Regions from separate parts of the Homo sapiens genome. Here all the other regions are linked to region 2. Evidence: fine-mapped expression QTL. A gene starts in region 2. Each other region holds a variant in brackets. All regions are shown on one strand. Distances are from middle to middle.

Region 1 (5,499 bases), 180 kb after region 2:
GAATAATATATGTATACATAAATACATATATATACACACACACATATATACATATATACACACACATATACATATATACACATACACACACACACACACACACACACATATATATATATACATACATACACACACCTATTTTTTTGCCTACAATGGATATATTCATCCTGGAGGAATACCTTTTTTTTTTTGAGACGAAGTCTTGCTCCATCACCCAGGCTGGAATGCAGTGGCACGATCTCAGCTCACTGCAACCTCTGCCTCCCAGGTTCAAGCGATTCTCCTGCATCAGCCTCCCAAGTAGCTGGGATTATAGGCACATGCCACCACGCCCAGCTAATTTTTTATATTTTTAGTAGAGACGGGGTTTCACCATGTTGGTCAGTCTGGTCTTGAACTCCTGACCTCAAATGATCCACCTGCCTCAGCCTCCCAAAGTGCCGGGATTACAGGTGTGAGCCACTGCACCCAGCCTTGTATTTTATATACCTGGGAGCTAAAATTTTGGAACATATTTTAAAAGTACATAAACCCAGAATTCTTCCTTTTGGCACCCATCCATTTTTACTACCCTGAACACCCTACCAAGACCATCTAAACTCATCTCCACACCCTTCCACCCTAGCCTGACAGCGAGTCAGTCAGTGCAGGCCCTGTTCTGGATGCTATGGAATATCCTGAAACCAAACATCTTGTGTAACAGTTGAAGTGAACAGGTGCTCATGTAAAAAGGTGATCTTAGAACACGTACAGAGCAGCTTTATGTGAAGCACAAATCAGTATGAGCAAACCAAGTCTATAAGTGCTGAGAGAAGGTCTAGGAAAGAACATAGAGTCAAGTGGGGTGCTTCAGAGAAGGCTTTCTATAGAAGGCTGGGAGGAAAAGCCGTGGAGTGGTTGGAGAGGTTGGGAGAGGGTGCCTCTAATAGAAGGGAAAAATTCTGAAGCCCAGATGAGCACATTTTGCTTTAGAGGCTAGATTGAAGATTAGCTTGGCTCCAGCAGTGGCAATGAGCAGGGGAGATCTAGACAGGAGGTGAAGTCCACCCGCCCTGACACATCTCTGATCTCCGCCTTCAGATGTGTCACCGGTGGTGGCCGGCCTCATCGGGGCCTCTGTGCTGGTGGTGTGTGTCTCGGTGACCGTCTTTGTCTGGTCATGCTGCCACCAGCAGGCAGAGAAGAAGCAGAAGAACCCACCATACAAGTTTATTCACATGCTCAAAGGCATCAGCATATACCCAGAGACCCTCAGCAACAAGAAGAAAATCATCAAAGTGCGGAGAGACAAAGATGGTCCTGGGAGGGAAGGTGGACGTAGGAACCTGTTGGTGGACGCAGCAGAGGCTGGCCTGCTAAGCCGAGACAAAGATCCCAGGGGGCCTAGCTCTGGATCTTGTATAGACCAATTACCCATCAAAATGGACTATGGGGAAGAACTAAGGAGCCCTATTACAAGCCTGACCCCTGGGGAGAGCAAAACCACCTCTCCATCATCTCCAGAGGAGGATGTCATGCTAGGATCCCTCACCTTCTCAGTGGACTATAACTTCCCGAAAAAAGCCCTGGTGGTGACAATCCAGGAGGCCCATGGGCTGCCAGTGATGGATGACCAGACCCAGGGATCTGACCCCTACATCAAAATGACCATCCTTCCTGACAAACGGCATCGGGTGAAGACCAGAGTGCTGCGGAAGACCCTGGACCCTGTGTTTGACGAGACCTTCACCTTCTATGGCATCCCCTACAGCCAGCTGCAGGACCTGGTGCTGCACTTCCTTGTCCTCAGCTTTGACCGCTTCTCTCGGGATGATGTCATTGGCGAGGTCATGGTGCCACTGGCAGGGGTGGACCCCAGCACAGGCAAGGTACAACTGACCAGGGACATCATCAAAAGGAATATCCAGGTGAGTAGGAAGTGTGTGTTGGGGAGCAATGGTAGGTTGGGGGAGAAAATATCTCAGGGGATAAATGGAAGTGGGAGGGGAGTGGGTTGGGTGGCAAAGAAGGGCTGTAGAGAGGAAGCTCTTGGATGTCAAGGATAAGCAGTGGTCAGAGTAAGACAGAGGGCCTGGCAGATGAGGTCTCCTCTAAGAAGCAACTTCCTGGTGAGAGAAGGTTCAATAGCTTTCACCATTTCACTTAGTGGTTGGCATCCTGATGCTGTCCAGCTTACTTGGAACAGGCTGGCCTACCATTTGTAGATCCTTCATTATATCAGGGATATGGGAGCTAATTTCCTCTCCAAAATGATGTGATCTTCCTCCAGTGAATTTATTTTTCACAGCTGAGAAGCTATGACAATAATTCAGTAATTTTTCCCTCAGCTTCCCTTTCCCAACCCTAACCTAGGGGTGTAAATGATACCATGTACATGTCTTTTTTTTTTTTTTTTTTTTTTTTGAGACAGAGTTTCACTCTTGTCGCCCAGGCTGGAGTGCAATGGCGCAATCTCAGCTCATTGCAACCCCCACCGCCCAGGTTCAAGCTATTCTCCTGCCTCAGCCTCCCGAGTAGCTGGGATTGCAAGCACCCATCACCACGCCTGGCTAATTTTTTGTATTTTTAGTAGAAACGGGGATTCACCATGTTAGCCTGGCTAGTCTTGAACTTCTATCCTCAGGTGATCCACCTGCCTCGGACTCCAAAAGTACTGGGATTACAGGCATGAGCCACTGCACCCAGCCGTCATGCACATGTCTTCTTATGACCATTTTACAATGCAATTCAATGAATTGCTTCACCCTTCTAGGCCCAAACCTTTGCCATAGACACTTCCCCTCTCTCCATTTCTCCTGTCCTCCCTCTTTGTATTAGAAGAGGGACGAGGGCCCTCCATCCTGCCTTCTCTCTCCCTCTTCCCACTGGACCGACATTGGCTCTTGAGTTGTAATTTCAGGAGCACAGTAAGTGTAGCCCCACCCAACCCCATTAGTTCATTTATTTCTTCCACAACTGGGGAGGCAGTGAAATGCTGCAGTTAAACACTTGGGCTCCAGAATTGGACTGCACGACTTTACTCTCCAGCTTACCACTTGCCAGCCGTGTGACACGGGTGAGTTACTCGACCCCTCTAAGCCTCTATTTTGTCATTTGTAAAATGGAGCTGATAATATTG[T/C]CTTCCTTACAGAGAATCAAATGAGATAATATGCCTGGCATATGATTGCCCTTGAAGAGGTTTCACTTTATTGAAGGAGAAAGACAAATATTTTTTGTAATTACTGTATAGTGAGTATGGTAGGTGCTATGAAAGAAGTTGTTGAAATTTTAAACTTAGAGTTTCATGTCTTTTTCAGGGTATAACATAAGTGGTTAAAATAGCAAGGACTTTGAAGTCAGACCTGAGTTTAAATCCAAATTCCACCAGCTAAATGACCTTGGGCAAGCTGCTTCACTTTCGCTAAGTCTCAGTTTCTTATGGGAATAGAGTAGGATGATGATTTTATATAGCTACTAGGACACAGTGAGCCTTCAATAAATTGTGACCGTTACTATTATTGTTATTCCTATTATTAGTCAAGTTTGATACCTGGGTGATGCATGTGGTTTGTAAATATTTATATTTTGTTTTGACACAGTGAAGGAAGACAAGGGAGGAATTGGTGAAGGAGGTTAGGAAAGAATTTCGAGGCCACTAGAAACAACTGCACATCTCCCAGAAAGAGCTCTGCCTGTGGGCAGATCATACTTATTTCTTGATACCTTTTTTACCTGCAAGTCCTCACTGGACTCAGTGGGTAGACAGGAGGCTCAGGACTGGATAGAAGAGGCTCCTAAGTTAGCAGGTGCAGAGTGTGCAGTGAGTACCCAGGAACAAGGTTTGCCTGCTGAAGAAGGGTACTGTGCCAAGTCTGGGTGGGGGACAGCAGGGAGCACACTTTGTGTGTGTGTATTCTTGCCTTCTCTGCTCTGTAGTAGGCACCTGTCCCCCTGCAGCCAGCCCGGTCCTGCCTTTCATTGCCTGAAGGAACTGCTACTGCCACCTGGCACACTCAGATCCATGTCACAGGGGCCAGGGAAGTCCAAGAATCTTGAAGAATATTAGACACATTTGTGATTGTGATTTAGGGTAGAGGTGGCCCTCAGGACATCTGGCCCCAAGAAGGGTTTATTGAGGTTATGTTCATCCACCTAATACAAGGGCTCCTTGGCTAGAAAATCACTCTGAAAGAGGTTCTGCTAATTATAGGAAAACTTGGTGAACGTCAGAGCATAAACAAGACACTGCCACAACATCTTGTGGTTCTCAATGCCAGGATACAATGAGACATCCCAGAGTCCAGCCCTGAAGGGGTTTTCGCATCCTCTGAGACTGGAATCAGAAGGTGTGAATAGAAATGGAAGCAGTGGCCTGTTTCATCCCCTTCTCTCCCCTCCCCTGTCCCATCTTTTTTCCTCAGGGCTCTGCCGACCCATTCTGCTGTTTCCGTATTCCCTTCACAGCAGCTCCCATCCTCTACTCCTTCCCTTGTCTACCTCTCCTTGAAGGAGGAGCCTTTCCAATACACCCTTCCCTGTGACTCCAACCTTGGTAAAGTCACCAACCAGCTGGACTCCTCCAGACAGCTATACACTTGCAGCCCAAGGCTGGGAGTAGAACATGGCTCTGTGCCAAGCTGCAGCTGGGAAGAGACTGGCAATGAAAGGGACTGATTTGGGCTGGGAACAAAACAGCCTCAAATCAAGGGCACTGGACACAGCACAGACAATGGCATTTGCTAAGCTGCCAGGGGCTCTTGGCAAGAGCCACATTTCTTTCCACTTTATTAACTCCCTTGAGGAGGGATAAGCCAGGGCTAGGATCCTGAGCAACACATGCCCTGGAGAAGGCCCGAGATAGGTTACCCAGAGCCTGTGCAGCCCCACCCTAGAGCCTTCCAGCCTCCCAGGCTTCCTAAACCCATTTTCCCAACCAGTGCCCGTAGGCAGGACTATGTTCCATCTGAGCCATGGCTGTCATCTCCCTAGTCACTCATCCACTAGGTTCCCTAGAAGTGCAGGCTGCAAATGTCTATCCCAAATCCTCCCTACCATAGCAAAGTAGGATCTCTCCTTGGTGAACGTCAGCTAGAGCTGCCCTGGACCATGCCACACTGGCTGTAAAGGGCTTTTTCCTGGTCTGGATTACATAGACCAGGAAAAAGCTACTGCACTCTAGCCTGGATGACAGAAGGAGACCCTGTCTCAAAATAAAAAATAAAAAATAAAAAATAAAAAAATAAAAGAAAATATGGCCAGGCACAGTGGCTCACCCCTGTAATACTAGCACTTTGGAAGGCCAAGGCGGGAAGCCCAGGAGTTTGAGGTTGCAGTGAGCTATTACCACAAACTGCACTCCAGACTGGGCAACAGATCATGTATGTGTATTGCAGGGAGGAAAAGGGGGATGGGATTGAATGTTAAGGTTTTGTTTTCCCATGGTTGTGATTTAGGCTAGAGGTGGCCCTCAGGACATCTGGCCTCAAGAAGGGTTTATTGAGCTTATGATGGTCCACCTAA
Region 2 (5,000 bases):
TCCCCGAGTAGCTGGGACTACAGGCGCCCGCCACCACGCCCGGCTAATTTTTTGTATTTTTAGTAGAGACGGGGTTTCATCCTGTTAGCCAGGATAGTCTCGATCTCCTGACCTCGTGATTCGATCTCCTGACCTCGTGATCCGCCCACCTCGGCCTCCCAAAGTGCTGGGATTACAGGTGTGAGCCACCGCGCCCTGCCGAAATCAGTCTTTCAAAGGATTCCTTCAGCCCAGCCAAGAAGTTCCAACATCCACAGGCACATATATTAACAATTACCAGTACCCAAAAACAGTTCTCTGGTTTTAATTCCACACTGCCTCCCTCAACTTAATACCTACCACCGTCAAAACAACTCCCCTCAGATTGCATCCAGGCTATTTACAGAGACACCTTGATGATCCTCACCTCAAGGCATGGACCATTCATTGAATGGTTATATTTGTTGAATGAGTGAAAAAGGATCCTTCCTCCCACAGATTTCAAGTTAAGCTGTCAGCACCCATGCAGCTGCTCTGGTACAAGTTAAGCTGTGAAAGCCTTCTCCCTCACGCATACAACCTTAAGTGTCAGAAATGCTCTGCTTCCTCCATAAATCCAAAATAATATAGCCATGGATATGCATTTCATACAGGTCAGACTCGGCAAGGACAGCTACGTTCCACATACATATCTGACACAATCGGTCTCCCCCAAATACAAGCCAACCAGTCTTATGTGCTCCTATCTTTCCAGCATACTCAGATTTGCCGACAAAGACTTCCTGAGGCACCATGGTATGCTGAATATACTGCTGCAGTAGTAGTGAAAATATGGGAGTTACAGTTCCAACTTTGTCACCAATTTAACATGCGGCCTTGGAGAAGTTCTCTCCTTATGCCTAAATTTCCTATTTTGTAAAATGGAAGAAAGCATCCTACCATTTTCACAGAGATTCAGTATCACAAAGAAACTGAAAGAGCTTTCTTATTGTATTGTAAACTATTACTATAAACCCGCGACAACAAATAAGGCCACCCATTCTTTACAGCTTTGTAGCAATGATTCTGTTAAAGATATTTTGGCCCTTCACATTTACACAACTCACTCTAACCAAAGGCACAAACTATTCTTAAGACCACAACTGGCTATGCCAAGTTTCTCCCCTCCCTGACCTCACAGACACATGCTGTACAGAACACTACCATTGCCGCTCTTTCCCAACAAGTAACTAGGGGCTCCCAATCCCTAAAATACACACACATATCAACCTGCAAGGAACCTCCCAACATTTATTCAAGAAATAAGCTAACTTATAAGGGGAACTCCATTACACTTACACAAATAAAGGCAAACTCTTACGGAAACACTTGCCATCCTCACATACACACACCAACACAGCCGCTACACACCAACAGACCATCTGTCTGCTAGACCAAAAACATCTCTTTCCATGTACAAACTAACCAGTGACATTTATTAAACGTACAACACTGAGATCATCCTGTCGTTCCCACATACCGTTCAACGCGGCAGGGACACCACAGACCTTGTCACACAGGTAAAATCCCCTCTCAAGATCGTGTCCTCGACCACTCTTATCCCTTAATTAAACACACACAAACTGGACTATGGGGGAGGCTCCGATCATGCCTACAAACACAAACTAACCTGTCAGGGGCACAGCCGACTCCGCCTCCACTCGCTTACTTCCCAGCCCCCTCCGGGAGTCTGCCTGTCAGGGACACCCCTTCACCCCGCCTGGAGGGACTTCCCGGTAGGCTCAGGATCCCCCTCCCTGCTCTCCCCTCCCCCATCTTCACCACTGCTCTCCCAGAGGTCCAGGTCCGGGAGATGACAGTGGCTCCCAGAAAGCCCAGGATTCAATCGCTGAGAGAGTGCTTAGGCCCGAATGCCGGCCCAAATCGTTCTACTCACCGTGTCGGAGGCCGAGAGCGATGAGAGTACAGGGAAGTGAGGAAGAGGGGGTGGCCGCCAGGCTCCTCCGCTTCCCTGGGTCCACCGCGGATCCCTCCCGCTTGTCAGGAGGCGGCCAGCGGGTAAGCCGACTGGCGGAAATGCGAGAGAGGAGAAGGGAAAGGTGGAGGGCTAAAGGGGCAAACTGAGAGGAGGCGGATCCCGCAACCGACACTGGGATCGTTTCCCCTCGCAAAGCGAACCCAAAATGGCGGCGGCAGCGGCGGCAGCAGAGTGGCCGCGGCAGCTCCTCCAGAGGGAGGGAGCTAAGGGCGCCTAGCGACACCCCCAACCTCCCACTCCTCCCTCCTCGCGTTCTTCCCCACGGTCCCCCGCTTCGCCCGACTCCGGCCATGTAGCGCGCACGTCAGCCCGCACGCGTACGAGTGTCTACGGGCTCGTCGCTGGCTGCTCCCACCAACCACCACCTTCGGCCGTCCTGCGAGCCAGCCATCCCGTACGCGCTCACCCACGGGAACCTCCTCGCCCAGTTCTCCACTCCCCCTCAGACCCTGTCAAGCCGGCTCCAGCGCAGGCCCTCACGCGTACCTTCAGCGGCGCGAGCCCAAGCCTTCTCCACCTCCTCTTCTCTCCTCCCCCTCCCTCCCCGCCCGCACGGCCACCAACCGCCGCCAAAGCAGCCGCCGCCAGCACCCCCACCCTACACTCCTCGCGCGTGCGCCTCCCACAGTCCCCACCGCGGGACTGTTCCATTCCTGGCGGCTGCAGGGGCAGGAGAGGAAGGGACCGGCAAAGCGAGTCTGGCTTGCCGTTTGACTGGAATTGCCAGGGTGGCCGGCCGAGTCCCATGACAACCTACCTCCCTGGGTTCGTCGCCGCGGCGCTGCGGCTCGCCTCCTCCTCCATGGGACCGCGGCGAGGGGATCGAGGGCGGCCTAGCGCCCCTCTGCCGGCCGGTGGTTGGAGGCCGCGGCGGCTGCGCGTTGAGTCGTTTCCTGCCGGATGACCCGACCCTTTTTTGCAGTCTCAGGACGGGCGCTTTGGAGCCGGCCCCAGGCAGCGTGTGTCGGTCGCCTAGTCTGGAGAACTAGTCCTCGACTCACGGTGAGGGAATGGACCGACACGGGTATTGTACCGCTGAGGGAAAGGAGCGGGACTCCGGACCTCCAGGAGGTAGGGAGTGAGGCCGGTAGACCGGCGCGCCTCCGGGGGGGATTCCTCCCGGGCGTTGAGTTGCCAACCTGGGACCCGAGGAAGTTCGGCGTGGTGGTGTGCTTTTTGTTGTTGTTAACCCTCCTCGGATTTCTCGAATTTCACACCACTGTCCATATGCGATGATGTTTGTTTGCCCTTGACGCACTTACTCATGGATGGTACTTCAGCCTCGTTAGACAGCCTGGTGATGGAGGATGAAGAAACCATGTGCTTCTCATTCAGTTCTGGACTCAGTTTCCCTTGTCTTCAGCAAGTTATTTTTGTTAGTTCCTTATCAAAAAGTGTACATAAAAATTAGGCAACTCCAAACATGCCTCCAGGGTTGGTGTGTGAAATAATAAGATAGGGCTGGGCGCGGTGGCTCACGCCTGTAATCCCAGCACTTTGGGAGGCCGAGGCAGGTGGATGACAAGGTGAAGAGATCGAGACAATCCTGGCCAACATGGTGAAACCCCGTCTCTACTAAAAATACAAATATTAGCCGGCCGTGGTGGCGGGCGCCTGTAGCCCCAGCTACTCGGGAGGCTGAGGCAGGAGAATTGCTTGAACCCGGGCGGCGGAAGTTGCAGTGAGCCGAGATCGCGCCACTGCACTCCAGCCTGGCGACAAAGCGAGACTCCGTCACACACACACACACACACACGAAATAATAATATATGTAAAGTGGAATTAGCTCCTAGGCATAGGGAAGGTGCAGAGTATTGCCGTGTTGTCATTTACAGTTCTGTTGATGTCGATAACGTTTGTGGGTGTAATGGGTAGTGTTCTGTCCCTCCAAGTCGTTAATAAAACAAAGCAGGCCGGGCGTCTTGTTAAATAGTTGTATCAATGACTTGATTTAGATTAATGAGGATATATTTTTCAAATTTATGCCTTTTACAAAATTTTTAAAGAGTAGGTAATGTCGGTGATAGATATAAAGAAAGGAAAAGATCTCCAGATGTGGAATCTTCTACTGGATCCTGTAACAGAAAGAAGACATTAGGCTGGGCGCAGTGGCTCACACCTGTAATCTCAGCACTTTGGGAGGCGGAGGAGGGCGCATTGCTTGAGCCTAGGAGTTCGAGACCAGCTTAGGCAACACGGTGAAACCCCATCTCTACAAAAAGACACAAAAATTAGACAGGTGTGGCACACGCTTGTAGTCTGAGCTACTTGGGAGGCTGAAGCAGGAGGATTGAGGAAGAGGTTGCAAAGTTAGCCGAGATCACGCCATCACACTGCAGCCTAGGTGACAGAGCGAGACCCTGTCTCAAAAAAAGAAAGAAGACATTAGCAGAAAAGCTGAGGAAATGCAAATAAAGTCTGCAATTTTTAAATAGTATTGTACCAGCTTTAATTTCTTAATTTTGAAAATTGTACCATGGTCATATGTATGTAACATTAAGGAAACTCTAATGAAAATTGTAAGAAAGCACTTTGTACTACCTTTGCAACTCTTCTGTAAATTTACACTTTTTTTTGTTTGTTTGCTTTGAGATAGGATCTATGTCGCCAAGGCTGGAAGGCAGTAGTGCAGTCCTGGCTCACTGCAACCTCAAGCTCCTTGGCTCAAGGGATCCTCCCACCTCAGCCATCTGAGCAACTAGGACTACAGGCACATGCCACCACATCCAGCTAATTTATTTTATTTTTTTTTTGAGACGGAGTCTCGCTCTGTCACCCAGGCTGGAGTGCAGTGGCGCGATCTCGGCTCACTGCAAGCTCCGCCTCCCGGGTTCGCGCCATTCTCCTACCTCAGCCTCCTGAGTAGCTGGGACTACAGGCACCCGCCACCACGTCCAGCTAATTTTTTGTATTTTTAGTAGAGACGGGGTTTCACCGTGTTAGCCAGGCTGGTCTCGATCTCCTGACCTCATGATCCACCTGC
Region 3 (5,468 bases), 64 kb before region 2:
GGCATGATTGGTTAAAAACATCAGGCTGCAGCTAGAGCTTAAACTCCCTATATGATTGGTTGAAGGTTCAATCCCTTAGTTTGCAGCTATAACTCATTTTGGCTTAGGGGAAAGTTCCCTTAGGGAAGTCCCTATTGACCCAGGAAGTCCAGCCAACTTAGCCACTTAGTCCCTCAGTCCCTCCTCTCAAAAGGAAAGCCCAAGTGCCGTTGGGAAGTTGGGCAACAATCATTCTAGCTACTTCCTGCTGAGCTGGGGTGTAGAAGGGGCTCTGCAGTTGAGCCTTCCTCAGGAGGGGAGTCTTCAGTGTCATGGTGCAAGAACAGATTGGTGGGTCAGTCTAGGGGTCCTCGATAGCAGGTGCTAGTGGTGGTCATTTGGGGCTCCATCTGTAGAATCATTTGCAGTTTCATGGATTCTATTCTGGAAGAGACAAATTTTACAAGGAGGTTAAAAATGCAGGGTCCAGAGATAAGCAACATCACAATAGCCACCAAGGGTCCCAAGAAGGGGAGAAACCAGGGCATCCATTGGTTGACAATACTCCAAAGTCCTGTGTCTTGGAGCTCTTGTGCCTGGCACTGTATCTGGTCTCGAAGCTCCTTAACCTTTTTTGGTGACAATTCTGTATTGATTAACAAAATAGTAACACTCTTCTCCTAGAAAAAGACAGGTTCCACTTCTTTCAGCTGTTAATAAATTTAAGGCTTTCCAATTCTGGAGGGCTACTGCTGCTAAAGAGTTAAGCTAGCTTTGTAAGGTGACCAGTGAATCTGCAACTCGTTCCATGTCATCATTTAACTCTTGTGATAATTTGTAATATGTTGGGGTGATCAGACCCAACACCAGGCTGTGGGGGCTACGAAGTCCGGCGGAGTCAAAGGAATGAGATAAGTTAAGAGTGCAAGAAGTGGGACCAGGGGGTCAATGCTAGTATGGAGGCTGTGAAGGCCCTGAGCTCTTGAAGCCTGCACTATTTATTGGTGATCAAACAAAGAAGCAGGTGGTGAGGATGTGGGGGTTCAAAGAAAGCAGTGTATCAAGTGTGTGATCTACAGCTGTGACAGTTTAGCATTTTCTTTGAAGCATATGGAACATGTTCTGCTACTTGAGATAATGGGGAACATGTTCTTCTAGTTTAAGACACAATCGATCTATGAGCCTGGGAGGGCTAGAAACAAGGAGCCAGCAAATCTAGACACATTCCAGAGGCCACAAGGGGTTTTATGCCCTGAGCCCTGGATTCCATTCAAGCCATGAGGGGTTTTATGCCCTTGGCTTAGAGTGTGGTGCAGCAGGGCAGCCTTTCACCCTTTGGCACAGAGCTTGGTGTTCCAAAGGCCACAAGGGGTTTTAGACCCTGGACCCTGGACCCTGGACCTGTTCTAAGACTCTTTTACATTATATCAGACATGCAAGCCCTGCCTCAGCTTTTTCCCCAACACTCAGCTTTTTTCCCAACACTCAGCTTTTCCCCAACAGTAAGAGAATTGGGTGGAGGTGGTAATGCCTCCAATGCCAGTTCCTAGACCTCCTAGTATCCTAGCCCTGAAAATGAATGGCAGGATAGTCGAGGTATGCTGAGATGCTGGGTTTGACAGATCTTTAAAGGCAAATAAAAATTGCGAGTTAGGATGCAGAGGGATGCAGAAGAAAGCGTCCATAAGATCTAGGACTGTAAACCATTCTGCTTCCTCTGGTATCTGGGAGAGTAGAGTATAAGGATTAGGTACAACTGGATTGTTGGGAACAAGCCCCTCCAAATCTGGTCATAAACTGGCCCCAAAACTGGCCATAAACAAAATATCTGCAGCACTGTGACATGTTCATGATGGCAATAAAGCCCATGCTGGAAGGTTGTGGGTTTACCGGAATGAGGGCAAGGAATACCTGGCCCACCCAGGGCAGAAAACCACTTAAAGGCATTCTTAAGCCACAAACAATAGCATGAGTGATCTGTGCCTTAAGGACATGCTCCTGCTGCAGTTAACTAGCCCAACCTATTCCTTTAATTTGGCACATCCCTTCATTTCCCATAAGGGATACTTTTAGTTAATTTAATATCTGTAGAAACAATGCTGATGACTGGCTTGCTGTTAATAAATACGTGGGTAAATCTCTGTTCAGGGCTCTCAGCTCTGAAGGCTGTGAGACCCCTGATTTCCCACTTCACACCTCTATATTCTGTATGTGTGTCTTTAATTCCTCTAGTGCTGCTGGGTTAGGGTCTCCCTGACCAAGCTGGTCCTGGCACTGGATACAGGGGAACAACTGCCTCAATGATAATTCAGAGGTCTTTCACTAACCTCCACTGTCTGTTGGGTTTTTGTATGCCTAGAATAGGACTGTTGCCTGGACTGTTGCATGGCTTTACTAATCTCTGTGCTTGTAGGTCTTTGACAATCTTTTGTAACCCTTGTTGGGCTTCTGGTCAGAGGGGGTACTGCTTTGATAAGGAAAGAAAGTAGGATCCTTTAATTTAACTTGAACTGGACAAGCATTTTTTGCTTGTCCATACTGCTCTTGCTCTTCCTCTGCCCAGACTTCAGGATTAACTCCCTCCTTGAGTAGGGCAGCAAACAGGTATTCCTTCTCCTATATTCAAGTATATAATGGCCCCTGCTTTAGCTAATATGTCTCTCCCTAGTAAAGGAGTAGGGCTCTCAGGCATAATAAGAAAGGCATGTGAGAATAATAAGGTTCCCCAGTCACAATTTAGGGGGTGGGAGAAATACCTAGTGACTGAGTGTCCTAAGACCCCTTTGATGGTGAAAGACCTGGAGGATAGTTGTCTGGGACAGAAGAGTAAAACTGACAGGGCCACGCCATTGTCCAGGAGGAAGTTAGTTTCCTGGTCCTCACTGGTTAAGCTTACCTGGGGCTCTGTGATGGTGATGGCATTGGGCTGGTGCCTGCCCTGGGCACCCTCAGTCTTGTTGGACCATCTGGTTAGTGGCCTCTGGCCCAGAGGACCTTCACCCTAAGGGGCAGTGTGCCTTCCAGGGATCTCCCTGGCACAAGGGACATGGACAAGGGGGTGGCTTATTGTTGTTTGGGCAGTCCTTTTTGAAGTGACCCTGTAAGCCACACTGATAACAAGCCC[G/T]GTTAGGTGGGTTGCCTGCCCAGCCTTTCTTTCTTTCAGAGCCACTGAAGCTCGTCTGCCTGAGAGCCATGACTAAGGTGGCAGCCTTTTTCTTGTCTCGTCTGTCTCGTTCAGCCTGCTCCTCCTGATCCCTATTATAAAACAACAAATTTGCCAAATTTAATAGAGTTTCCAAATTTTGCTCGGAGCCCAGGGCAGACTTTTGAAGTTTTTTTCTAATGTCTGCAGCTGACTGAGTGATAAACTTATCCTTTAAAATTAGCTGGCCTTCAATAGAGTCAGGTGACAAAGAGGTATGTTTTCTTAATGCCTCCCTTAGCCTCTCTAAAAATGCCGTAGGGTTTTCTTCCTTTCCCTGTGTTATGGTGGACATAATTGAGTAATTCATTGGCTTTTTTCTGGTCTTTCTTAATCCCTCTAGTATACAAGTCAGTAAACGCCTGTGACTCCAGTCTCCATGCTCCGAATCGAGGTCCCAGTGGGGATCCACACTGGGAACTGCCTATTGGCCTGTGGTGAATTGTTCCCTTTCTTCTGATGTCGTTTTATCATTTACCTGGCTTAGGTACCAGAGATCCCCAAACTCCTGGGCCGCAGCTAAGGTGGCCTCTTTTTTGTTAGGAGTTAATGTTTGACCTAAAAACAACAGAATATCTCTCCATGCTAAATCAAAAGATTGTCCTAATCCCTGTAAGACGTCTACATATCCATCAGGTTATCTGAGAATTTTCCTAGGTCCAGTTTGATCTGTTTTAAGCCTGAGAGGGAAAAGGGGACATGTACTTGTGCTGAGCCAAAGTCTCCTCCTCCCACGGCTTGGAGGGGGCACAATCAAGGTCCATTGGTGCCTTTTGGTTCCTTGACTATCTTTTTGTCTGGTTCCTTTTGGGCTGATAAGGCCAAAGGAGAGTCCTTACTAGTGGGATGGGGAGCCATGGGGAGACCTGGGTATGGGGATAGGCTTTGAGGACCCCTGGTAGGATGTAAATTACATTTTTTACATAATTGTGGGTTATCCCTTAGTGAGAAAAAAAACCTGTAGATATGGCACTTCACTCCATTTGCCCTCTCGTTTACAAAAGAGATCTAGCTGTAGGATGGTATTATAGTTTACACTTCCCTCGGGTGGCCATGTCTCTCCTCTGGAAAGAGGATACTGTGGCCAGGTGGTGCTGCATAAAAATATAAGTCACTTCTTCAGCATTTGAGGGTCAAATTGGTCCCAATTATCCAGAATACACCTCAGGAGTGGCTTCACTTTTGAAGGAATGTCTCCCATCTGAAAGGAGAACATAGGAGTGCCCGCACCTCTAGTCATCCCCTAGTGAGCACTAGCCCTAGGGCATCCCTGTAGGGGTGGGTTGCCCCTACACACCTGTGGGTGTTTCTCGTAAGGTGGGACGAGAGATTTGGAAAAGAAAAAGACACAGAGACAAAGTATAGAGAAAGAAATAAGGGGACCCGGGGAACCAGCGTTCAGCATATGGAGGATCCCGCCAGCCTCTGAGTTCCCTTAGTATTTATTGATCATCTGTGGGTGTTTCTCAAAGAGGGGGATGTGTCAGGGTCACAAGACAATTGTGGGGAGAGGGTCAGCAGACAAACACGTGAACAAAGGTCTTGGCATCATAGACAATGTAAAGGATTAAGTGCTGTGCTTTTGGATATGCATACACATAAACATCTCAGTGCTTTACAAAGCAGTATTGCTGCCCGCAGGTCCCACCTCCAGCCCTAAGGCGGTTTTTCCCTATCTCAGTAGATGGAGCATACAATCGGGTTTTATACCGAGACATTCCATTGCCCAGGGACAGGCAGGAGACAGATGCCTTCCTCTTGTCTCAACTGCAAGAGGCATTCCTTCCTCTTATACTAATCCTCCTCAGCACAGACCCTTTACGGGTGTCGGGCTGGGGGACGGTCAGGTCTTTCCCTTCCCACGAGGCCATATTTCAGACTATCACATGGGGAGAAACCTTGGACAATACCTGGCTTTCCTAGGCAGAGGTCCCTGCGGCCTTCCGCAGTTTTTGTGTCCCTGGGTACTTGAGATTAGGGAGTGGTGATGACTCTTAAGGAGCATGCTGCCTTCAAGCATCTGTTTAACAAAGCACATCCTGCACCGCCCTTAATCCATTCAACCCTGAGTTGACACAGCACACGTTTCAGAGAGCACGGGGTTGGGGGTAAGGTCATAGATTAACAGAATCTCAAGGCAGAAGAATTTTTCTTAACACATAACAAAATGGAGTCTCCCATGTCTACTTCTTTCTACACAGACACAGTAACAATCTGATCTCTCTTGCTTTTCCCCACATTTCCCCCTTTTCTTTTCGACAAAACCGCCATCGTCATCATGGCCCGT

What was found. PIP is the estimated chance that this variant, and not a neighbour inherited with it, causes the effect.
Region 1: its variant is fine-mapped to the expression of DAP3 in tibial nerve (GTEx, PIP 0.98).
Region 3: its variant is fine-mapped to the expression of DAP3 in whole blood (TOPMed, PIP 0.96).

The regions. Positions count from the first base shown.
Region 1 is chr1:155,866,885-155,872,383 of GRCh38, forward strand. It overlaps SYT11 (synaptotagmin 11), which reads left to right. Exons shown (of 4, transcript NM_152280.5): 2 at 1,081-1,907. Among named protein-coding and RNA genes, the nearest start is that of SYT11, 10 kb to the left of the region's middle. The variant T/C (reference allele first, on the strand shown) is at 3,119.
Region 2 is chr1:155,686,156-155,691,155 of GRCh38, forward strand. DAP3 (death associated protein 3) reads left to right here and starts at 2,936. Exons shown (of 13, transcript NM_004632.4): 1 at 2,936-3,019. It overlaps YY1AP1 (YY1 associated protein 1), which reads right to left and starts at 2,619. Exons shown (of 11, transcript NM_139119.3): 1 at 2,504-2,619; 2 at 1,916-2,046. It also overlaps the pseudogene LOC124904430. RefSeq lists enhancers at 2,025-2,659, 3,035-3,084 and a silencer at 2,495-2,544.
Region 3 is chr1:155,622,214-155,627,681 of GRCh38, forward strand. It overlaps the pseudogene LOC100419798. Among named protein-coding and RNA genes, the nearest start is that of MSTO1, 15 kb to the left of the region's middle. The variant G/T (reference allele first, on the strand shown) is at 3,104.